7 linked regions of the Homo sapiens genome follow. The protein of the gene in region 3 purifies or fractionates together with the protein of the main gene of each other region. This does not show direct contact. Each region holds a gene or a part of one and is shown on either strand. Other genes may lie near its edges.

Region 1 (3,500 bases), on a different chromosome or scaffold from region 3:
ACCCAGGCTGGAGTGCAGTGGTGTAATCTCAGCTCACTGCAACCTCTACCTCCTGGGTTCAAGTGATTCCCATGCCTCAGCCTCCCGGGTAGCCGGGATTAAAGGCACGTGCCACCATGCCTGGCTAATTTTTGTATTTTTAGCAGAGACGTGGTTTCATCATGTTGGCCAGGCTGGTCTCGAGCTCCTGGGCTCAAGTAATCCACGCACCTTGGCCTCCCAAAGTGCTGGAATTACAGGTGTGAGGCAGCATGCCGACCTACTTTCATAAATGCAAAGAAAAAGGCCTGAAATAACAAACTGCACTGTTTAATGTATGTGTGTGTTTCACTGGGGGCCCTGGGGGAATAGGAGAAGAGGGTGAGGACTTTAGACCTGAGAATGTACTCACAAAGCTGCTCATGAAATAAAAAGATCAAAGAAAAATTCACATCCTTCACAGATGAATTCAACTAATTATATAGGACAGGAATTAACTAGAAGCATCTTTCCAAAGGCAATCTAACCTCATCTATGATAGATTCTCAGACAATATCAGGAGAGAAAACCCTTCATTATTAGCAAGAAGCAGCCAAACTATATATAAACCAATCTGTTACATGGAAAACATTACACAACCTGCTTAAAAAACTATTTCATTAAAGAATGCTTTAAATGTTTTACGGAGAATAAAAAGAAAAAATCTTTTAGGAAGGTTCACCTGTAGTAAGGGGCAAAAGAAAGTATACTGTCCCAAGTTTGGGGACACAAGGTAAAGGGTTAAACAAAACCAACCAAAAAACAAAAAGAAAACACACAAAAGCTCCCAATTCGACTTTTGTTAGCGGGGGCAAAAAAGGAGAGATGACATATTTCTCTTCAGAAATTTGCCACTACCCACCCCCTTTTTCCTATTCCCATGCCAGGGTACTCGCAAAATTAGAAAGCAGCAAAAAAATGAGATGAATACAGCTTCAGAAAAGATCTAATCAAAACACTGCTAAAGTACTCATGTGCTGAAGATATCAGTTACACACATTCAAACTGATCCTCCCACCAAAAGCTATCACAGTGGTGGGCAAAATAGTGGCTAAGGTGTCTCTGGAGAACTGCTCAGTAGAAAAGTACGCCTCTGTAATAGAGAATATATGATTAGCTCCTATATTTTGGATGAAAGCCCCTCATTAATCCAAATCAAACCCTTCTCTATCAACACACTACAGAACATGACATACAGCGTTTCTGAGGCAATGGGAGGGACAGTGACAGCATTTTTTAACAGAATATAGCAGGTACAAAAAGAAAAGGCATGATACAGCATGGCCTATTTGAAAAATTTTAAAAGTGTCCAGTAGGTTTGGAAATTGGAGAAGCAGTCTTAAGTCCAGGGTCTTGCAACACTAAACAGTCATGAGTCCCCTTCCTGGCTGTGAGCCAAGGAAGACTGGGCAAGGAGCTACGTGATCAGTAAGTGCTCTGAAGTAAGTTAGCTCCAGTGGCAATGTGCAATGTCCCAGGAATGGAGGGGCAACAAAGCAGGAAGAGCAGTGAGGAGACTGACCACTGCAATGCACCAGCTGCAAAGTGAGAAGACATGGAGGGCAAGTGAAAATGGGATCAGACCACAAAGCAGCATTTACTGCAACAACCACATGCTTTCTTGTCTATCTCTTTTCACTTACACATTAGGTAAACCAAACTTCCTTTACATTTTGTGGTATCAGCTAGCTTTTTGGTGTTAATCATAATAATCTCCAAGGCAACAAATAAATCTGGGGCTCTATGAATTCACAACATTTCCCACAATTTAAGAACATTCTCTTTTTAGAGACAAGATAGATACAGGCAAACACAAATAGGAATTAGCATGGGAAAGATGGCCCAAGATAAATCATATGTGGTAATAACACAATTTCAAGAACGATTATGTAAGAAAGAACGTGACTGAAATATGACTAAACCTATAGTGTGTAAAAAACAGAGTATCTAAAAATCTTTAAATTTAAATATTATTTTCATTGCTTTTTTTTTTTTGAGATGGAGTCTCGCTCTGTTGCCCAGGCTGGAATGCAGTGGTGCGATCTCCACTCACTGCAAGCTCCGCCTCCCGAGTTCACGCCATTCTGCTGCCTCAGCCTCCCGAGTAGCTGGGACTACAGGTGCCCACCACCACGCCCGGCTAATTTTTTTTTTGTATTTTTAGTAGAGACGGGGTTTCACCGTTTCACCGTGTTAGCCAGGATGGTCTCGATCTCCTGACCTTGTGATCTGCCCACCTTGGCCTCCCAAAGTGCTGGGATTACAGGCGTGAGCCACTGCGCCCGGCCTTTTTTCACTGCTTTTGAGGCCTGCCTCTTCCTCCTTTCCTGTGTGTGATGGGTTTCTGATTTGCTCTTAAAATCTTGTCATTGGAAATAAGAAAAAGGGATATAAAGATCTTGCGGGGCCTCCAGAGCCACGATGAGAACTTTGGTCTTGATCCTGAAATCGGCGGTACCCAGAGGGGCCACACAGAGTGGGCTGTTGTATTTAGGTTAGTTAAAATGTTAAGTATGGAAGAGATGGACAAGATGGATTCAGAAAAACACACAGGACTTAGATACACAAAGTGAAAAAAAAAAAAAAAGGCAATACAAAGAATTAGATGGCTAAAGTAAGGAAACGTGGGGTGGGTAGATGGGCCCAGGTACACAGAGCCAGCATGAGTTCCTGCTCAAATAAAGCCATTCATTTATCATTAACTCTGTTCTTCCAGTCCTCCAGCTTCAAAAAGAGATGGCCCCTGCTTCCTGCTGAAACTAATGCCCCCCTCCTATAGGTCTCCACTCTTTCTTGTTCCCTCAATGCCCTTGCTCCTAGAAAACAATCTGCCTTCCATTTCAAAATCTGGCTTTACAAATGGACTTTACACTTAAAAATAATCCACCTATGCCCAACCCCCCATCTGAAAGAGAACACTCACAATGATTCTGCTGGACCCTTCTTCAACAGTTTTACCCTTCATATTTGTTTTTCCCAAGGCAGCAGACTATCCCCATAGTCACAACCTTTCACTTTCAGGCTGACTCAGCCTGATTGTCTAGACATTTGTATTTCTCCTAAGTGAATCCTGATGATCTAATCCACTCACAGTAATCCCATGTTCCCAGCCAGTGACTGGTTCAGACAAAAGCATTGTGACCCAATGCTGGCCAAGATGAGAAGTCTACCTGGTGAGGGGTGAGAGTGGCATGGGGTCCCACAGGGGAAATAAACAAACAGTTGTCTTAAAAAGATATGTATTTCCAGCCAATGCACCTATGAAAAAAAAAAAAAAACTATAGAGGAAGAGGCCCTATTACTGCTAGGCACTACTTAATTTGATGAGACACCTAGCTGTAGTCAGCACGGGACCATAAGGGCTAGCAGAGGACAACATGTGGAGGACAGCAGTTTAAAGAGAGAAATGGGGTGGGCACTGTGGCTCACACCTATAATGCCAGCACTTTGAGAGGTCGAGGCAGGAGGATCACTTGAGCCCA
Region 2 (3,500 bases), on a different chromosome or scaffold from region 3:
TTACAACAACACTGAACCATAGCAATAATTTTATAAACAAGATACTGAGACATAAAGAAATTAACCACCTTGTTTGACAAACAGTAAGTAATACAGCTGAAATTTTAACCTGGCTATCCTTCTCCAAAGGCCGTATTTTTAACATTATGCTTTCTTCCCAGGAATGAATTTTAAAGAACTGTCCCTCGTCTCCCCTATACAAAGATTAGCGGATAGACAGACAGTGTAGTAATTCTCAGTTTATAGATACACAGTAAAGCTGGGTAATAATACATTTAAATATAATATATATGACCGTCATTTTCATAAGAATACTACATCTTTAAAATAACTTCGCTGTGTAAAAAGTGCTTCTACATTTATGACCTCATTTAATCATTGCAATAATCTCATGTGGCTGGAAAGAGAAGGGTTTTAAGAGGCTATAGCTAAGGAGGGATAAGTGAGTTTCACGGACTGTGAATGGGAGACCTAGGAACTGAATGAAGGTCTCACAACTTGGTAACACTTAAAATCCACATTCAAACTCCTGCCTAGTGCTGAGCGAAGCAAGCTATAGGTAGATGAAAAGATGGTTTCTGCCAGTAATGTTATCAGATGTTATATGTGTGACTTCACTTTAGTAGACTAATTCTAACTCATCTAAATTGCTTTATTTCACTAATGTGCCATTGCAAGATGTTGCTGGATGATGCCACTTTTTACTTAAGCTATGAAATAATATGTTTTCAAAAACTTTTTTACAAAGGTGTGGCTAGAAATGCAAATGAGTTTAATCTGTCTATAATTTGCATAGTCTACATGCAAACTAAGGAATGACAACTTTCAATAACTTTAAAGGAATTGCTATAATGTCTGAAGTGGCTTTAAAACTTAGTTAAACCCTCAAGTTTTATATTAAAGATTAAAGCTCATAACTCCATTCTTCCCATCTTAGTCCTCCCAAAATACAGGTCATTCCTAATAAGCACTGACTATATATTATATGTATCTAACGAAGTGTTCCACACCACAGTAGTCATTCAGTATTTTTTTTGGTCAATTCAGTGTTTCTTCTAAATTTAAACATTAATGACTTTGTCTCATTTAGGAAACCTAACACAACCAAACACTAATTCTACTGCACAGCACAATAATTCAAGCTACTGAACATGCTGCTTTTACTTAATAACTTTACCTGTTTCTGAATGATTTCACTTTGATTAGAAGCTTGGAGGGTGTGTTCACGCTTAATTTCTATCTGTTGCTGTTTCTTCTTTTGCTGCTGATCCCTGAGTTGCTGAACCCTTTGCAACTGCTCTTGCACACTGGCTGCCTGCACTGTAACCACATTCTGAATCTGGTGAGTCTGCACAGCACTGCTTTGCTGAATTTGGATAGGTAACTGGAGTTTGATTTGCTGGGGCACACCACTTTGCTGAGCCTGTATCTGAGCCACAACCTGTGACTGGATCTGAGAGAGAACCTGGACTTGTTGTTGCAGCTGAGGCACAGCAATGACTTGGGGCTGTGGCTGCTGTATTTGTAGCTGAGGACGGGATGGGGATGAAACAGTAACTTGATTTAAAGTTTGTCCTGATGAAAGAGTTTGAGTTGAAGACTGTACCTGGGGTTGTGACTGTGGCTGGCCTTGGGAAGGTATCTGAAGAGATGTATGTGGTTGAATTGGAATCGGTTGTGAGGTTGTAGTCTGAACCTGGGATTGTTGTCCAGGAGACAGTTGGGATGGAGTTGATGGACGTATTCGAGTCTGTGATGGACTTTGGACACGAACAGGAGACTGTCCTTGGACATTACTTTGAGGCTGAGACTGTGCTGCAACTTGGGGCTTGGATGACTGTGCGTGGGTGGGTTGTGCTTCAGAAGGGACATGGGATGAAACAGTTGTTTGGGTCTGAACTTCAGGCTGAGTCTGAACTTCAGGCTGAGCTGGGGACTGGGGCTGGGTTTGGGGCTGGGGCTGAGCTGAAGGCTGAGCAGTCTGTGGCTGGGCTTCTGCTGGACCCACACTTGATGACTGAGCTGGTGGCAGGGTTTTGTCTTGATGTACCTGCATCTGGGGTGACAGTTTACTCTGCCTTTGTTCACCTGTACCTGTAAAAAGGAAAGATGAACCATTTCTATTACTCTGGAACATAAAACTGTGGTTAAAGAAGAATCTGAAGGAAATCTTCTGAAGTTGAGAATTCTGGCCAGGCGTGGTGGCTCACACCTGTGCACCTTGGGACGTTGAGGTGGGAGGATCGTTTGAGCAACATAGTGAGACCCCGTCTCTACACAAAAACAAAAAAAATAAAAAATTATCTGAGCATAGTGGAGCATGGCTATGGTCCAAGCTACGTGGGAGGCTGAGGTGGGAGGATTGCTTGCGTCCAGGAGTTCAAGGCTACAGTAAGCAGTAATGGTGCTACTTCGCTTCAGCCTGGGCGACAGAGCAAGACCCTGTCTCGAAAAAATAAATAAAGTAAATAAAGTTGAGAATTTTGTATTTTGGTACAGAAGGTCTATGCCTTTGAAATGCTCCATTTGGACACGCTTAGGGCAGGACGCTCTGAAACTGGGAAGCCTGGGCCCTGCTTCTTGGCTGTCCCCTGTACACTCTCCTAACTCTAGAGGGCTGGTTTCCAAAGTAAGTTGCAGCCTCTGGAAATCAGCTGGGTCATCTGGCCCAGGCTAATTGCCACGCTTCACTTTTCTCCCATGATGTGGTGGTAGTTAGTTACAATGACTTGCAGCAGAAGGTCAACAAAGTGGTTCTGGACCCACTCTCAATCTGAGGTCATGAACTGGATTTACCCACCCTCCCTGAGATCACCTCCATGACTGAATCAGCACCTACAAGGCTTAGCAAGGAGTAAGTGTGGGCATAGTTACCAAGATAACCATTATTTTTGCCCCCTTTCTCTCTCTCTCTTTTTTAATAGGAGGGAGAGGGTGGTGGTAACAGGGAGTCTGTAAGAATAGGGTACAAAAGCTTCGAGACGTTGTGAGGCTGACTATGTCAACTGTTGAGGTCACTGGCTTGAGGCATATCCTTCCAAAGGTAAATACTGGTTCTCCTGTTGGCCTCTGTTAGCCCAGCCACGTGTAGTAGTAACATCCGACATTTCCGATAAACCCACAGCTCTACCTGCTGCTGTCGTGGAAACAGTGGTGGTGGTGGTGCTGGCTGTGGTGGCTGTTGTTGCCAATGGGGTAAAGAGGAATCGCTGAACAGTACCATTTGGCATTGCAGCTTGCATTAGCTGCTGGCCTGGGCCTGGGAGTACAGTCACCCCTTGAGGTATCAACTGCAACTGTCCAGTAGTTTGACCTTGTCCTTGAATTACTACTGTCAAACCTTGATTGCCACCCTGTGGAAAAAACACAACATGTAAACAGTGTTCAAAGCATCAATCTGTATGTATATCATTTTTATTAAATCATTTTTATGTGTAATTATCTTTTAATATAATGAAAATACATATTTGAATGTCACCAGCAGGAATTTAGATAAGCTA
Region 3 (3,500 bases):
CACTAAAACAATTTTTTGTGTTGCTTTTAAAGTTAAAGCAAGTAGGCCGGGTGTGGTGGCTCATGCCTGTAATCCCAGCACTTTGGGAGGCCGAGGCGGGTGGATCACCTGAGGTCAAGAGATAGAGACCAGACTGGCCAACGGTGAAACCCCGTCTCTGTTAATGATACAAAAATTAGCCAGGTGTGGTGGCAGACACCTGTAGTCCAGCTACTCAGGATGCTGAGGCAGGAGAATCGCTTGAACCCGGGAGGTGGAGATTTCAGTGAGCTAAGATTGTGACATTGCACTCCAACCTGGACAAGAGCGAAACTCCGTCTCCAAAAAAATAAAAATAAAAAATAAAGTTAAGGTAAGTTAGGGCCAGGGGCAGTGGTTCATGCCTGTAATCCCAGCACTTTGGGAGGCTGAGGCGGGCAGATCACCTGAGGTTAGGAGTTTGAGACCAGCCTGGCCAACATGATGAAACCCGTCTCTACTAAAAATACAAAAATTAACTGGGTGTGGTGGTGCATGCCTGTAGTCCCAGCTACTTGGGAGACTGAGGCAGGAGGATCGCTTGAATCTAGGAGGCAGAGGTTGCAGTGAACCAAGATCGCACCACTGCACTCCAGCCTGGGCGGCAGAGTGAGATCCTGTCTCAAAAAAAAAAAAAAAAAAAGTTAAAGCAAGTTAGACTTTTAGGCTTTTATAGATGCTTAGAATATTTCTTCCTGCTAATAACAAAAATATATCATTTACCTTTGCTGACATCCCATATGATGGCTGTGTTATCCACAGAGGCAGAAGCCATTAAATTCCCATCAGTTGCCCAGCAAATATCATACACATCTTCTAAGTGGCCCCTAGAATCCAAAAACAAAGAGGAAAAAAGCAATTACTCCCCAGGTATAGCAGCTTACCCCTGTAATCCCAGCACTTTGGGAGGCCAAGGTAGACAGACTGCCTGTGGTCAGGAGTTCAAGGCCAGCCTGGCTAACACAGTAAAATCCCATCTCTACTCAAAATACAAAAATCAGCCAGGTGCTGTGGCTCACGCCTGTAATCCCAGCACTTTGGGAGGCCGAGGCAGGCAGATCACAAGGTCGGGAGATCGAGACCATCCTGGCCAACATGGTGAAACCACGTCTCTACTAAAATACAAAAAATTAGCCAGGCGTGGTGGTGCACACCTGCAGACCCAGCTACTCAGGAGGGTGAGGGAGGGGAATCACTTGAACCTGGGAGGCAGAGATTGCAGTGAGCCAAGATCGCGCCACTACACTCCAGCCTGGCGACAGAGTGAGACTCCATCTCAAAAAAAAAAAAAAATTAGCCAAAAAAAAAATAGCCAGGTGTGGTGGCGCACACCTGTAGTCCCTGCTACTTGGGGGCTGAGGCAGGAGAATCCCCTGAACCCAGCAGGCAGAGATTGCAGTGAGCCAAGATCATGCCACTGCACTCCAGCCTGCGCAACAGAGTGAGACTCTGACTCTAAACAAAACAAAACAAAAAGCAATTATTAACTCAAAAACGGACAAGTTATCAAAAATATAAGGACAATCTCCAGAACTAAGCATTAAAATGAGATTCCAAAATTTCCACTGGCACTATATTAGCTATAGCTATAAAAAACTACTTTCAAGGATAGCTATATCTGACCGGTCGCAGTGGCTCACGCCTGTAATCCCAGCACTTTGGGAGGCCGAGGTGGGCGGATCACCTGAGGTTGGGAGTTTGAGACTAGCCTGACCAACATGGAGAAACCCCGTCTCTACTAAAAATACAAAAAAATTAGCTGGGCATAGTGGTGCAGGCCTGTAATCCCAGCTACTCGGGAGGCTGAGGTAGGAGAATCGCTTGAACCCAGGAGGCAGAGGTTGCGGTGAGCCGAGATCATGCCATTGCACTCCAGCCTGGGCAACAAGAGCAAAACTCCATCTAAAAAAAAAAAAAAAAAAAAAAAGGATAGCTGTATCTTTAAAATTGAATACTTTTTACTAAGAAAAATGTATAGCCGAAACTAAGAAAATCCATTTTAATTATGCTTTCATCCTTTAAAACTATTGTCTTAGGACTGTTTCATATAAATAAAACTTCTAAATTAGACCAGCCTGGGCAACATAGTGAGACCCTGTCTCCACAGAAATTTAAAAATCCTCTCCCTCTCCCTCTCCCTCCACCGTCTCCCTCTCCCTCTCCCGCTCTCTCCACAGTCTCCCTCTGATGCCAAGCCGAGGCTGGACGGTACTGCCGCCATCTCGGCTCACTGCAACCTCCCTGCCTGATTCTCCTGCCTCAGCCTGCCGAGTGCCTGGGATTGCAGGCGCACGCCGCCACGCCTGTCTGGTTTTCGTATTTTTTTGGTGGAGATGGGGTTTCGCTGTGTTGGCCGGGCTGGTCTCCAGCTCCTAATCGCGAGTGATCTGCCAGCCTCAGCCTCCCGAGGTGCCGGGATTGCAGACAGAGTCTCACTCACTCAGTGCTCAATGTTGCCCAGGCTGGAGGGCACTGGCGTGGTCTCCGCTCGCTACAACCTCCACCTCCCAGCCGCCTGCCTTGGCCTCCCAAAGTGCTGAGATTGCAGCCTCTGCCCGGCCGCCACCCCGTCTAGGAAGTGAGTAGCGTCTCTGCCCGGCCGCCCATCGTCTGAGATGTGGGGAGCGCCTCTGCCCCGCCGCCCTGTCTGGGAGGTGAGGAGCGTCTCTGCCCGGCCGCCCCGTCTGAGAAGTGAGGAGCCCCTCCGCCCGGCAGCCGCCCCGTCTGGGAAGAGAGGAGCCCCTCCGCCCAGCAGCCGCCCCGTCTGGGAAGAGAGGAGCATCTCTGCCCGGCAGCTGCCCCGTCCAGGAGGTGGGGGGCAGCCCCCGCCCGGCCAGCTGCCCCGTCCGGGAGGTGGGGGGCGCCTCTGCCCGGCCGCCCTGTCTGGGAAGTGAGGAGCCCCTCTACCCGGCCGCCACCCCGTCTGGGAGGTGTACCCAACAGCTCACTGAGAACGGGCCATGATGACGATGGCGGTTTTGTCGAATAGAAAAAGGGGAAATGTGGGGAAAAGATAGAGAAATCAGATTGTTGCTGTGTCTGTGTAGAAAGAGGTAGACATAGGAGACTCCATTTTGTTCTGTACTAAGAAAAATTCTTCTGCCTTGGGATGCTGCTAATCTATAACCTTACCCCCAACCCCCTGCTCTCTGAAACATGTGCTGTGTCAACTCAGGGTTAAATGGATTAAGGACGGTACAAGATGTGCTTTGTTAAACAGATGCTTGAAGGCAGCATGCTCCTTCAGAGTCATCACCACTCCCTAATCTCAAGTACCCAGGGACACAAACACTGCGGAAGGCCACTGGGTCCTCTGCCTAGGAAAACCAGAGACCCTTGTTCACTTGTTTATCTGCTGACCTTCCCTCCACTATTGTCCTATGACCCTGCCAAATCCCCCTCTCCGAGAAACACCCAAGAATGATCAATAAATACTAAAAAAAAAAAAAAAAAAAAAAAAAAAAAATTTAAAAATCAGCAGG
Region 4 (3,500 bases), on a different chromosome or scaffold from region 3:
TCCTAAGCGGGGAAAGGGGGACAGGAGGGCTCCTACCCTGGGTCTCTGGGGCTCCCATGGCCCACACTATGGGTGCAGCTTTAGCCCCACTGTCCCCACTCCTCGGGGGCACCGGGGCTCTGGTGGCTGAGCGGACGCCCCTCCCACCCTTGCATCCCACGGGGCCAATGTGCACCAGTGGAAGGTGTTTGCACCAGTGGAAGGTGGGGGCTGCACCACTGTCTTGGTGCCTCTCTGCACCAGGGCCTCCCTCAAGGGTGGCCAGGTGCTTGGGGCTCCCACACAGGGAGGGCACCCTGTGGAGGGCTAGGGCACACAGGGGAGCCAGCAGCAAGGGCCGCCCCAGGTGGGTTTATGTGGGTGAGGCCCCAAGCAGCCAGGGGCAGGGGCTGGGCTGCTCCGGCTGACCCCACCCCATTCCTCTGATCACTAGTGTGGAAAGGCGGGGATTTTTCAAACCAGCTGAAAACGTGCACGGGGACCCCCTCGGAGTCGTCCTGCAGAGCAGGTGTCGGTGGGGCAGTGGCAGGGCTGGCGGGGAGCTGTCTGTGGTGGGGCAGCCGATGGGATGCCAGTCCACAACTGCCCGCTCTGCCACCGGGCCTCCGCCTCCCCCGCCACCGCAGGAGACCGCCTGGGCAGAGCCACCCCCACACCCTGGCGGTGCCCAGCACTGCTTATGTAACGGGCTCTGGCTGATGCAATCTCGAGGGGGGGCCTCTCCCTCCTGCTTCCTCCCAGCTGTCCCCTTCCGGCAGGGTGGTCCCAGACTTAGGAAACCCAGCCCAGCACATGGTCACTGACTGGTGGCCTGACCAACAGAACGGATGAGGGTATGCACAGGTGGCTGCCAGAAGTTCTGGAAGGAAGTCTGGGATCTGCCCGTGGGTAAGGGGAGGACAAAGGGGGACCCCTGCTCTGGCCCTAACCCACGCCCAGAACAGGCCTTCGAGGACAAGGCCCCAGACCCTCTGCCCATGGACAGACCCCAGCTCCGTTCCCAGAAGACCTCACAGCCCAGGGCCTCTGCCTGGTGAAACCCACCTCTGAGAAGGCTCTGGAACTGGCACACGGAGACGGGGACTCAGCCCTGCCTAACCCTGTCTCTGATGGGCCCTTCCTCTCCCCAGATGGCTTCTGGTGGGTGGCCCTGAGGTCACCACACGCCTGATTCTCTATGACACTGCCCCCCCCAACACCTCACACGCTCCCGTCTTCAGCCAAGCCCCAGCCCCTTTCTGCCCTTGGACACTCTCTGCTCCCGCAGCAGGTCCTGAGCTTTCTAAAACCAGATCTGGGGGTCACCATACAAGCAACTGCACGGTCAGCCTTTCCCCAAGCCCAGCCTGTGCCCTTGAGCCCACCAGTCCCTCCTCCCTATGGCTCCATCTGGTGGGGACAGAGCAGAGGCCCAGAGGGTTCCAAGACGCAGAGCATGCAGCCAGTGTTAAGGTGGCATCCTGCCCGTCCCGGGTGAGGGGCTCCAGGGAGGAGCAACCTCACCTCAGAACTCCTTGTCCTGCCAGCTCCTGGCCCCTCGTGGCTGCCCCACCACCCTCCTGGCCCACCTGGCAGTGCCCTCATGCACCAGCCCTAACCCTCCAGGGCCTGAGGCTCCACGGATCCAAGCCTGCTCTAATTAAGACCCATTACCCTGTGATCACCCACCTCCTGGGGGTGGAGGCGGGGTGGGGCTCAAGTCGACCAGAGGAAGGAGAGGCACCTTCTGCTGCTTTCTCCAGAGCTCCCTCAGCCCCTCTCTAGCTCCCAGTATGCGCCAGCTCAGCCCTGTGGGACCCCCAGGCTGGCCTAGGCTGAGCCACTGCAGGCTGCGGCCAGGCCGATGAGGTGGGCCCTTCTCAGGGTAGCGCATTGCAATAGCAGCAGTCGTGATAACTGCATACCACCTGCCAGGCTCGTGCCAGGCCCAAAGTACCTAGGACTGATTAATTTGTATCAGTTCAACACAGCAACTCAGAGAGGGGTACTATTCTTTCTGGTTTGGGGCTTTATTTATTTATTTATTTATTTTAGAGACAGAGTCGCTGGCTGGAGTGCAGTGTTATGATCATGGCTCACTGCAGGCCTCGACCTCCTGGGCTCGAGCGACCCTCCCACCTCAGCCTCCTGAGCAGCTGGGACAACACGCACAACCACCACACCTGGCTCAGGGTTCTATTCTTATCCCCATCTGCAGATTGGGAAACTGAGGCTCAAAGGACCTCATTATTTACCTACATCTCAGTCCTACAGCTGGCAGTGGTGAAGCTGCCACTGTTTGAACACAGGCAGTGGGCGCCCACCCCCTTGCGAAGTCTCTCCCCCAGCACCCTCCCACTGAAACAGCCCACGCTGTGTAAACCGGCTCGGTGGATGCCCTGGGGACACTGAGGTGACTCAGGCTGGTCTGTGGTCTGGCAGGTCACAGGTCCCTCAAGGGGGTCAAGGCTGGTTCACCACACTAGTCCCCCTGCACACAGCCCCACAGCTCTGCCAGACCCAGGCTCCAGCCCCTCACTCCTCTGGGGAGGGGCAGCAGCAGAGCAAGGACGCAGCCGCCAGGGCACTTGGCAAACACAAGGTGATCAAAACAAGGGGAAGGCGCGTGACTGTGGAGCGAAAGTTAGGTCATCTGATTCTGGGTGGTTGAAGGATTTGCAGGGGCCAAGCCAGGAGCTGGGACGAGAACACCATCACCAGGTTGCAAAGGCCGGCAAACCTGCCAAGGACAGGGACCCCACTCAATGTCCACCACTCTCTCCAGGACCTGGGGAGAGGCGTTATTTCTTTTTTTTTTTTTTTAGACGGACTCTCGCTCTGTCACCCAGGCTGGAGTGCAGTGGCGCGATCTCGGCTCACTGCAAGCTCCGCCTCCCAGGTTCACGCCATTCTCCTGCCTCAGCCTCCCAAGTAGCTGGGACTACAGGTGTCCGCCACCACACCCGGCTAATTTTTTGTATTTTTAGTAGAGCCAGGGTTTCACCATGTTAGCCAGGATGGTCTCGATCTCCTGACCTCGTGATCCACCCGCCTCGGCCTCCCAAAGTGCTGGGATTACAGGCATGAGCCACCGCGCCCGGCCGAGAGGGGCTATTTCTGTTCCCCACCTGGACTCCCCAACCAGCAACAAGCAGAGAACAAGGCCACCAGGAGGTCAGGAGGAGGGAGCAACAGGGGCAGCAGAGGCTTCAAGCTACCCCTCCTGGAGGTGATACCAGCAAGTCCCCTCCCCACTGAGCCTCTCTCTTCATCTGTGAAATGGGCCTAATGTGGCAGCCTTTCCCCCAGGGCTATGGGGAGAAGTAAAAACTGTGAATGCAAAGGACCCACACGATGCCTGCAGGGGCTCAGCAATGGCAGGCAGAGCCCAGCGAGACCCAGGAGGGTCAGGGCGGCAGTGGTGAAGGGCAGAGGGCAGCGGTCTCTAGTTTGGCCACTGCTGGGCCAGAGGTTCTCAGGGCCACCCTAGACGCTGGCCAAGGAGTTCTCAGGCTGCCGTT
Region 5 (3,500 bases), on a different chromosome or scaffold from region 3:
AGATCAGAAATTGGATTACACTGGAATCTTACCTTAGATACAACTCTATATATACACTGCTTTTCTGTGCAGTATTTGCTACTCTTCTTTAAAAAGAGGGATTCAGGTCCAAGGCAAGAGAAAAGTTTTTAATAAACTTTTATTTTATATTCAAGATAAAGCATATACACAATTCAATGTGGAAATAAATTACTAGAAATACTCTGGAAACTTTTCCATTTCCCTCTCAAACTCACTTTTTTTTAAGCTCATAAGTCTTTTTACTTGATTTTAAGAAACATGGCAACTATAATACTAAGAAAGAACTACAGCTTTGTACAGAAACATAGAGCCTTGTCTTGACTATAAGGTTTAGTTGGTGTTTTAATAACAACAAAAAAGCACAAAAGACACAAACACTCTTCAACAGGTTTACTCAAACAGCTTCGCTCAAGAAGAAAAAGGCACAGATTTAAAGGGATGACAATAATCATTAAGAATGAAGTAAATGGAGACTCAGTCAAAAAATGATACTTCATGAATTAAGTCAAGAAAAACAAAAGTCTTTCAAATTATCTGTCTTCCTTAAAATGAATTTTTAAATTAAATTGTATAAACATATGATATAAAGTTGGTACTTTAGGAAGCGTCTTTGTATATTTTTTATGTACAAATCTTTGTATACAATTTCGATGTTCCTTATATATTCCCTATATAGCAAACCGAGCCAGGACCTCCCAACTGCATGCCTCAAGTCCCTGTGGAGCACTCTGGCAGCTGGATGGCCCTACTTGCTTTCTGACAAAATAGCTGGAAAGGAGGAGGGACCAATTAAATGTAGTCATCTTCAACTGGCTCTCCATTGACATCACAATAGTGGATAAAAATTGCCACTACTCGCTGAAATACACCCTTCTTCATCTGACGCATCTCTGAAATTTCCTCTCCTATTGTTTCCATACAGATGTCTGCAGACAGCTGTCCTTTCCTTCTAGGAGCATAGATAGTGCCTTTGAAATTAGAAATAAAAGGAGAGATACATATGATAATCAGAATCATTTGGAAAATCACTGATAAGCTGGTCCATAGGACAGTCCCATATACTGCACTATAATGTAACTGATGCATGAATAGGTCAAGGAATGGGTCACCACCAGTTTGTTCTTATGTTTGATGCCTAAGACAGAATACATGCTTAAAGTCTCAAGGTAAAAATACTGCACCAAAGGCAAGTCAGACACATGCACATGTAGTTCATAAAATCCATTTCCTTATAAAGTATTTTTAAAAAACCTTTGGTTAACAATAAATATTCAAGTATGCTACCACTTAGAGAAACTACATTCAAAAATTTCTCCCCTAATTTCTACACCTAAATTATAAGTTTCCACACAATAAGCAGCTCATAACTAGCAGGAGAATAATACAATTGGAACAATTTTGAAACAATATAGTTGAAGTTATTTAATAAATAAGATTATAAATATTTAGGTAATATAAAAATCTTGTAGGAAAATCTGTCTAAAGGAATCCTTTCTACCAGCCTTTATATATCCCTAGTAAGTCCACTGAACATCTACTGCACAAATAAAGAACTGTTTTGAAGTGAGTAAATACAAATTATTTCTATGGGAAACCATTTAACACTGCACTGCTCCTAACTCACAAAAAGATATTAAGTATGTAACACAGTAGGCTATACTTAAACTAGAGAATAGATGTCAAGTCAGGTCATAATTACTTTCTTCATCGTCTTCAAAGTCGTATCGAGCGAAGCTGTTGGGCTCTGCAGCTCGTAATGACCTCAGCCAAGGGAAGTCAGAAATCATGGAATATGGAGCTCCATCCACAACACCTAAAAGACAAATGTAACATTGCTAACTGGCGTGGGAGTGCTGACAGAGCCAAATTCTGCAGTATTTTGTAAGCAGAATGTAAAATATAAAATAAAGAGAGTGAGTCAGGTGTCCTCAAATCATTTCCAGCTATCAAACTAATTTGTAATTTCTGTTTACGTTTTATGTTTCATCACTGGTTCTGATTGTCCTAGAAATAGTAAAGACTCATACAGGCAAAGCAATCTTCATCTGGCTCCCACTTCTTGCAGGTATTAAAATCATCCATATTTTGAAGAACTGTAGGACCCCCATTCATATCTTCCCTAAGGCATGTTCGGTCATCTAGTTAATAGCTATTCAACTTTCTTTTTTTAAAAAGTGTAATTCTCTACATTTGGGTTACTGCTTGCTGTAAGCCCAAACCAGTTTGACTAATTGATTGATGGATCATTCATTCATCCGTGAATGAGAAAGGGCCAGGTTTTGTTTCCCAGGCCGGTCTTGAACTCTTGGGCTCAAGTGATCCTCCCACCTCAGCCTCCTGAGTCGCTGGGATTACAGAGGTAAGTACTGCACAGGCTATTTAACTTTCTAAACATTTGTAAATACTCACCTTCTAAAGTATAGATTTCTCTCCCCCAGGGGTACTTGGGGTATTTCTTTAAGTCTTCTTCACTTCGAGTGGCTTCAGGGAAGAATTCATATTTAATGAGCTCTCTGGAAGCAACAGGAAAAATTAAGTAAAAATTACAAAACTGGAAATAATTAGTGTCGGGTAGGAAGGAACCATCAAAACTGTTTCGGACACAGATTCTACCGAACATCTCAAACAAAACATCAAATACCTAACGGAAGTAGGATACACTCAAACTAGAGAATCCAAGTGTAGTCAGGTCAAAACTACTTTCTTCACTATCTTCAAAATCATATCAGGGAAAGAAAGTCACTTTCTAAGCATATGTCTTCTACACAAAAGGTGCTTAATGCAACATTTATATAACAAATTTATAAAAGTCAAATTTTCTGATGATATAGAATATCATAGTCTTAAGATCTTCTTCAAGTTGATCTCTTTTTCATGCCCCAAGGCTAAATAATGTTACAAGTACATGTGCAATCTGTTCTTGTAATTTTTACCTGAGTTTTAAAGATCATAAATATATACACATGCTTTTTAGTTTTAAGTCCTCATTTCCCTCAGTTTCTTACTTACGTTAACTTCAGGATAAGCTTGTTTGAAAAGCTTAGATGGAATCATTTAAAATAAAGAAAAATTGGGATTTGCTTCTGGGAGTCCCTGCTATGAGAAATGACTCAAAAGGCCTTTAAGGGCCACAAAGTTACTTACTGATTGATGTTTGCTATAGTGTCCATCCAGCTGCGAATGCGCACCTTATTCCGGACATTGGGAGGGTTACTGAATTCATGGATAATACAGATGTGATAGGGGTAGGGACCACTAAATAGCTTCTGCTCCAAAGTTAGAGTGTCCACCTGTGGAAGACATCATAAAGAGATGTCTTCAACAAAGAGAATGCCTTAGAAATCTCTCTCCGAGAGCTTGAACAATCTTTCCATGGACCTTCAGTTTTGAAATCTCTGGCTGATTTGAAAATCAAATAGTCACATTCAGACCTGAAAACAGTCTGTCATGCTGGGAATAATTTTGCAAATTCTTCTGTC
Region 6 (3,500 bases), on a different chromosome or scaffold from region 3:
CTGCTGTTACCAGGCCTGCAGAGGGAAGCCCTGGTGGAAGCACCACCTAGCCTGAGAACATCTACAGAGACATTTCATCCTCTCTGACCCAAAACAAAATAAACACCACAAAGTGAACCAACACAAGCAGGAAGACCGGACTTAACAAACAAGTATGTCTACATTTGACTGTTTACGTCAAGTGAATTGAGAGTGTGGCGTAAAATTACTACAGATTTTGTCATGGTATTTTTCAATGAGAAATCTGAGAATCCATCTTTGCACTTGTTTTTGCCTCAGCCGTTCACTAAGTTTGCTGCCAAAACAGACATCCTTTTCTTAGGAAACACAGGCAACCCAGGTATCTCTGTGATCCCAGCATAAACGCAACAGGTACTTGGATCCTTGTATGGGGAGTATCAAATTTCAAATTCTCTGCCACTTACTCTGGGAAGAGACCCTGAAGTGCTTCAGCAGGCCTCCAGCAAGAAATGGGAGAACTGCTAACCTAATCCATGCCTAGCCCCTCGCATGAATCTCTTGTTGGCAAACTTGTCTACAAACCCATTAGCCCTAAACAAGCTGACGGCAGGACCAGATCTCTACAGTGTCTGGCCGTGTGGCAAAGTGAGGTCTCATCTGACTATCTGGCAGCATAGTTTGTTTTTGTTTTTGTTTTTGTTTTTGTTTTCTAAGTTGTAAAAAACCCTAGCTATCATCAAGTCTGTCCCTTCATTTTACAGATGGGGAAACTGAGGCCATGAGAAATTAAGTGACTTGCCCATGGCTACACTGATGATTAACCACAATGTGAAGATTAGAATTAATCTCCTGACTCCTGATCCAGTGGTCTTTCCTGGGAATTTGTCTCTTCCCCCCTGCTGCTCCTGCCGTGGTCTTCACTGCCCAACAAGAAGGTCCTGTTTCTACTGATCCATTAAGCAGTACTTAACCGTCTTGGGGGAGGGTCCAGCCCAGCAGCGCTACATGGGGCTTTCGAAAGGTGCCAATGAACTGACTTGGTCTCACAATTGGAAAACAAGGCCTGCTCTGCTGCCTGGGCCTCCTGGCCTCACCTTTGCTGTGTTCACCCTCTACCTCTGCTTCCCCTGCAGAATTAGACAGCTAAAAACATTTCTATCAGCCTAAGAAGCTATTTACTTTAGAAAAAAAGCACACTGTCTTTGTGAGACTCACCCTTGCATTTATCTTCCTTCAGGAAGAGGGTCAAAGCAAAGCCAACTGGGGACCCCAGCTGATTCTGCTGCTTCTTCCACTAAACACATCCATAATATTCTCTTTGGTAAGTAAAATCGACATTCCCACATGAACTGGAAATGCTAAATTGTTAATAGCCTCCCTAGGGCTTAACTTCTTGCTATGATGCCTTCAATTATTTCATCACGGCTTAGGCAAAGTAAAGTATCACAATTAATGCTTCTGAGCGTCAAACTCGAGGAGCAGCTCTGCCTTCCCAGGCCAAGGTGGGGAAAAGGAGCTGCCCCTGGTTGAGGGCCTCTTCTTTTCCCACCTTCGCTTTCATTCTCCCCAGCCAGAGATGGGCTCTGGTTGCTGGCTAGGAAGTGGGTGATCTAGTTATGTCCTCTTTTTTTCTTTGTTAGTGCTCTTAGGCAAGTGATTCTCACAGCGCAGACCCAGGCCCACCCCCGATCAGCATCACCTGGGAGTTTGTTCAAAATGCAAATTCTTGGGCACCACCTCAGACTTACTGAATCAGAAATTGAGGGTGGGGAAGCAGCCTTCTATGTTGAATAAATTCTCCAGGTGATTCTCATGCACACTCAAGCTGAATCAGCACTGCTGTCTTAGGGTAAGGGAAGTATGAACGCTGGAAGCTTTGAAATTCCCTGGGCAGAGACCCATGGGCCATGAGGCTGTTTTCCCTCCTGTCCAGGACCCACCTCCTTTAGGACTGGAACAGTCAAAAACAAATTAAGCTTAGGGAATCCCTAAGGATCCCTCCATTAGGAAATTCAGGTTCCACCCTCCGTCTGTCATTGATAAGGACAGGGAACAGGTCCAGGCTCTCCATCAGGTCCAGGGCCTTCTTAGCATGAGACAACACCCAAACCAGCTTGTGCCAGACAGATTGTGTCCTCACTGCTTCCATTAAAGCCGACATGTCAGCGAACGCAGCTGTGGCAACTGCACGGACACAGCAGGAACTGGACTCTTGTTTCCCTTTCTGGTCTCTCAAATGGGACACATTTCCCTTTTCTGACTCAATCTTTTTTCAAATGTCTTACACTTTTCTGGTGGAAGGTGTTTCAACCTGTTCTATTTCATAAAGGTCTCTCTAGACCCAGTATTTCCACTTGGGGCCTCAGAAATGCCTTACACATTATTAGGTTGCAAAGTTTCCTTATGGCTGAATTTAAAAATAGTGACTCTTATTTTTCAGGTTTCATTAAAAAATATGCAGCAAACTGGGAATGGCTTTGATTTAATGTTATACATTTGGTCACTTTACATTTCTACATATATTGGGTACCAACTTTTGACAAAGAGCTCTAAGCCCAGTGGGATGTTCCTGGAATTTAAGTCATTAAATCAAGTTTTTTGGTTTCCTCAAGAACATCTCAAAGATTCCTTGACTATTAACATGCTATTTGTTTCTGAAACTAATCACTGGGTGTGTAATACAGCCACATTACTGTCTACTAATCAACAGGTAATACTGCAGATTTCCAAATGTGCCAAAACAGCTAAGCAAAAAGCATCATTCCAACACGTTTAATGACTGCTTTGGGAGCCCAACTTTAACAGGTATTAAAACCACAGGACTCTCCACAGGAGTACATAGATGTGTGCTATTCACTAAAATGTACGTGTGTGTGTGTTTGCAAGCATTTATGTGTACATATGTGTGTTAGCGTGTGCATGCATATGTGTTTGTGAGCATGTGCATGTGTGTATATTGTGACTGTGTGCATGTGTGTGTATGCTTGTGCATGTGTTAGCATGTGCATGCACATGTGTGTTAGCGTGTTCATGTGTGTGTATATGTGAGTGTGTGCATATGTGTCTGTGTACGTGTGTGAATGTGTGTATATTTCCTAAACATATGTTTTTAGATAATTTCCCTGTTTTTTTTTTTTTTTCAGTGAGACAGGCACAAAAGCAGTAGAGCTGTCCCACGTGGAATGGGCTATCTCGTGACACTGTGACCCCCTTTCTTTCACCCTGGGTCTTCAAAAAGAGAATGGATGACACTATGATGAGGAGGGGTCTCTATATTGGTGACAGGCCAAAATACAGGACTACCTACAGTCCTTTCGCAGTCCATAATCCTCAAGTCCCTCAGCTCTTCCATGTACCACCTTCTAGACTACACTTAAAATGCATCCTGAACGTTTGTAAAGTACCCTGAAGGAACCCATTCCAGTTCTGAATCCGATTACTAGGTTCAAGCCACACAAATAACAACAGTGCAGCTAGTCTGAGCTAGAGGCTTCTTTACCTAACTGCAAAGTAAATGTCCTTTCTATTCAGCCGCATCT
Region 7 (3,500 bases), on a different chromosome or scaffold from region 3:
GACAGTACCTGGTAAATTCCATGTAAATTAGCTAATCATTATACATTCCATGAGTCTCAGTAAGGAGGGGTCATCGGTTATAGTGAGAGGAAGAGGTGGCATTTCAGCTAGGCACTTATAACGTGGGTTGTAAGTGGATAGAATTTTGGATTCAGGAAAGAACAGAAATTGAAGTTACAGATTCCATAAAGCACAAAGTTTGTACAGGGTAGAGTAACCCCAGCAGCCTGGCTGTACTCTTAAGAGCAAATGTGTAACACAGAAATTGCAATGGGTCAGGTTGAAACATTTCCATTTTCATCCATAATTTTAGCAGTATAATGACATAGCTCAAAAGGAAAATAGGATATTCTACTTTTATATATTCAGATGAAAATATATAGTTCAAGGTATCAAATAATGACCTTATACCATTAATTTTTGGATTGTAATCTCAGCTACTGGATTGAGTGGGAAGTCAACAATTGTAGTGCTGTTTGACTTTTTGTTTTGGTTTGTTGGAATGTTTCCTCATAGAAAATCAAGCTGTATACTTTAATAATGCAGGACATATTTTAAAAAGTGGTAGTTGTAGTGAGGGGTTTTAATCCTGGCTCTACCACCTTATTTAAAATTTATTGTGAAAGATCTGCTCTACAAATATTTATTATGAAGGCTCTGTTGTAGGCTCTGGGATACAGTAGCGAGCAAAACAGACTAAGTACATGCCCTCATGAAGCTTATATTAAGAGCTATGTGACCTTTGAAAAATTACTCAAAGGGGTGTGTGTGTGTGTGTTTATGGTACAAACAGGCTTTATTAGTTGCAATGGAAAGTGGCAGAGGGGAGGATATGATAGCTCCTGCTCCTGGGGCAGGGTCCTCAGACTGAGTTTCCACCCTCCAAAAGCTAAAAATTTTTGACCCACAATCTGATCTGTAAATTTGGATCAGTATTAGTCATACTATTTGTAGAGAATATATAAATATATATACATATTTATAGAAATACTTACATTTATACATATAAATTGTTTATAAACATTTAAGAAACAGAGTCCATTAAATAATAGCTGATCAAAAATCTATCTTTGTCATCAAATGTTGTTTACTATATTGTATCATACATTTACTACACATGGCTTAATTTTCAAATTTCAGATACATATTTTGTTTTCAATCTACAGAACAATGTGGTAAAGAAGAAAGAGGGGAAGAATCTACAGTAATTACTAGTCCTGGTTTCAACAAGTAGATTTATTATCTACCATTTACTAGCTTTGTGATCCTAGACTAACATTTGTGCATCAGTTTCCAACTATAAAATCAGGACAAAATGATGTGATTCATCTACCTATTAGGCTGTCACAAAGAATAGAAGATAATTTCAAATTGTAAATTGGTAAGAAGTATATAAATAAAAGTTAGTTTAGTTCCATCATATAAAATGCTCTGTGTCTGAAAATTACAAACACTTGGTATTGGGAGATAAGTAGAGAGAAGAAGAGCACTAGCAGAAGTCATTTCCAGAATGGATCAAAATTACTAAGGAATTAATACACCTCACACAAAATGAACCGTTCTTCTCTTTCCCACTACAAGGCCAAAACTTACTATCTAGAAGTATGTTTGAAGAGTGTCAGCACATCTCTGCTATTTTGCAAAATTCCAGAAGATTTTAAGAGAAATGATGTTTACTAAGAAAAAACATTTCATAACTAAGACCATCGATACAAAGTTGTATTATGTGTTTGGGCCTATTTTTGTCTTTTGGTGCTTTTGTTGGGAACTTGAATTGATGAGTGAAATGGGACAAAGAGGCAAAAAGACTTAGAAAAGAGGGAAAAATGACAGGAGTCTAAAAGAGAGAAAATAATTAAAAAGAAAACAAAAGGAAAGAGAGCAGGTCTTAACAATGAAGCAACATAAAAAGAATGTTGTTTCCTTGGTATAAGAAAAAATAGATGAGAGGAAAAACAAAGCAGATGTGAAAAACAGAATAAAGAAAATGCATGCATAAAGAGAACAAAAGAAAAAAAGCAAAGCAATGGTGACAAGATAAAGACAAAATAGGAAGAAATAAACTTACGGGACAGATGTCTGATATCTGAGATAGATGCTTAATCTGTACATGTCACAGGCAAAAAAAAATTGTTTAAGAAGAAATAAACCTAATATACAATATCATTTTGTTTGCATTTTACATAAACAAGTAGGTATTCCTTATAATTTTATATTTCAAAAGCCTTATATAATTCATTTCTGGAATCTGGATATCAGAGGTAATCTTTTAAAAATTTTAACCTGTCATAAGATGGTGGTTTACAGACTGGATCATATAGAAGGAAGCTTAGTACAACTGATAGAGAAGATGGTAACATCATGACCCCGATGTAATCATATGAAAGAAAGGGGGTGATATAACCGCATTGGAACAAACAAGCTACTTATTGCTTCTAAATATAATAAGCGTTCTTGCTTTTCAAATAATATATTAAATAGTGAGATGCTTTCTAAAAATTTAAATATTATAATCTGCTTGATTCACTATATGAGCTGCTTTGAGAATTCCTTGTCAGGATACATTTTTGGGGTCTTGGGAATATATATGCTGTTTTCACCACTGCTTAACTGTCATAGCTTACTCAATAGACTGACCTATAAATAAAATATTTTGAATGTTTAAAGCACAATTCCAAAAAGTAGAGTGATTATGCCATGAACTAGAATAATACAGAAAATAAAAACTTAGAAAGCAATATATTTCCCCTAAAAGGTAGTATGAAACATTTTATTAATGATCTTCTAAAGTAAATGTAAAAATAGTTCAAGTTGAATAATTTGAAATGTTACTACTATCCTATTGTATAATTTATAAAACGTTATTTTCTCTGTGTTTAAATGTTCTGAATTGCTCACTTTTGAGGACTATTTCAATATACTATTTTTCTTAACCCGTAGCATTTTCGACATGCTTTACTATTAAACTTCTAGCATCCATAATAAGGGCTTTGAAAATTGACAAATGTCTCATATATATAATTTATAGTATGCATGTCAACATTCTGAATATGTCCAAGTGTAAACAAAATTGTTTGTGCCCCCTACAGAATTAGAAATCCTTGGGCAACACTGCTCTAATGATCCCATACCGTTAGTACTACAAAGTGTAAAAGTTCGCTGGGTAGGACAAGAGAAAAGGACAGAGTTCCCTCATTACACTATCCCTACACTATTTTGGCTTAAGTATTTATTAAGATATTAATTACTCTTCCTCCCTCTATCTGCCTTTAGACATTAGGCTGAGACACTGTAGATAGTTGCTCATCGTAAAACAATGCATTATCCAGTAAACCTTACCCCCCAAGATGAATGTTTTGTATGGAGCATTATTAATTCAGCAGGTGATATGTCTTAGAATTGTGAGGCTACATATACTCTCTCTTATGGACAACATAACGGCATGTTATGCTGATGCTATGTTTCCTTAAAGAAACAGCGTGTTTGGAAACTGAATTGGC

What was found.
Region 1: the proteins of CHAF1B (region 3) and WAPL purify together in Homo sapiens (affinity purification with mass spectrometry; one large-scale study listed by BioGRID and IntAct). This does not show direct contact.
Region 2: the proteins of CHAF1B (region 3) and BPTF purify together in Homo sapiens (affinity purification with mass spectrometry, with the first as the bait; one large-scale study listed by BioGRID). This does not show direct contact.
Region 4: the proteins of CHAF1B (region 3) and CHD5 purify together in Homo sapiens (affinity purification with mass spectrometry; one large-scale study listed by BioGRID and IntAct). This does not show direct contact.
Region 5: the proteins of CHAF1B (region 3) and FBXO38 purify together in Homo sapiens (affinity purification with mass spectrometry; one large-scale study listed by BioGRID and IntAct). This does not show direct contact.
Region 6: the proteins of CHAF1B (region 3) and BCL11A purify together in Homo sapiens (affinity purification with mass spectrometry, with the first as the bait; one large-scale study listed by BioGRID). This does not show direct contact.
Region 7: the proteins of CHAF1B (region 3) and ARB2A purify together in Homo sapiens (affinity purification with mass spectrometry; one large-scale study listed by BioGRID and IntAct). This does not show direct contact.

Annotation. Positions count from the first base shown.
Region 1 is NC_000010.11:86,438,293-86,441,792, forward strand, and holds part of WAPL (wings apart-like protein homolog), read right to left. Parts: intron 1-3,500. UniProt on the Homo sapiens protein: Regulator of sister chromatid cohesion in mitosis which negatively regulates cohesin association with chromatin. Involved in both sister chromatid cohesion during interphase and sister-chromatid resolution during early stages of mitosis.
Region 2 is NC_000017.11:67,944,003-67,947,502, reverse strand, and holds part of BPTF (nucleosome-remodeling factor subunit BPTF), read right to left. Parts: intron 3,354-3,500; coding exon 3,131-3,353; coding exon of another isoform or gene 3,019-3,130; intron 2,095-3,018; coding exon 1,178-2,094; intron 1-1,177. UniProt on the Homo sapiens protein: Regulatory subunit of the ATP-dependent NURF-1 and NURF-5 ISWI chromatin remodeling complexes, which form ordered nucleosome arrays on chromatin and facilitate access to DNA during DNA-templated processes such as DNA replication, transcription, and repair.
Region 3 is NC_000021.9:36,391,892-36,395,391, reverse strand, and holds part of CHAF1B (chromatin assembly factor 1 subunit B), read right to left. Parts: intron 846-3,500; coding exon 742-845; intron 1-741. UniProt on the Homo sapiens protein: Acts as a component of the histone chaperone complex chromatin assembly factor 1 (CAF-1), which assembles histone octamers onto DNA during replication and repair.
Region 4 is NC_000001.11:6,170,322-6,173,821, forward strand, and holds part of CHD5 (chromodomain-helicase-DNA-binding protein 5), read right to left. Parts: intron 1-3,500. UniProt on the Homo sapiens protein: ATP-dependent chromatin-remodeling factor that binds DNA through histones and regulates gene transcription. May specifically recognize and bind trimethylated 'Lys-27' (H3K27me3) and non-methylated 'Lys-4' of histone H3.
Region 5 is NC_000005.10:148,439,458-148,442,957, reverse strand, and holds the end of FBXO38 (F-box only protein 38), read right to left. Parts: intron 3,312-3,500; coding exon 3,166-3,311; intron 2,535-3,165; coding exon 2,431-2,534; intron 1,835-2,430; coding exon 1,721-1,834; intron 990-1,720; coding exon 811-989; 3' UTR 122-810; downstream 1-121. UniProt on the Homo sapiens protein: Substrate recognition component of a SCF (SKP1-CUL1-F-box protein) E3 ubiquitin-protein ligase complex which mediates the ubiquitination and subsequent proteasomal degradation of PDCD1/PD-1, thereby regulating T-cells-mediated immunity.
Region 6 is NC_000002.12:60,470,155-60,473,654, forward strand, and holds part of BCL11A (BCL11 transcription factor A), read right to left. Parts: intron 1-3,500. UniProt on the Homo sapiens protein: Transcription factor. Associated with the BAF SWI/SNF chromatin remodeling complex. Binds to the 5'-TGACCA-3' sequence motif in regulatory regions of target genes, including a distal promoter of the HBG1 hemoglobin subunit gamma-1 gene.
Region 7 is NC_000005.10:93,877,664-93,881,163, forward strand, and holds part of ARB2A (cotranscriptional regulator ARB2A isoform 1 precursor), read right to left. Parts: intron 1-3,500. UniProt on the Homo sapiens protein: Plays a role in the regulation of alternative splicing, by interacting with AGO2 and CHD7. Seems to be required for stabilizing protein-protein interactions at the chromatin-spliceosome interface. May have hydrolase activity.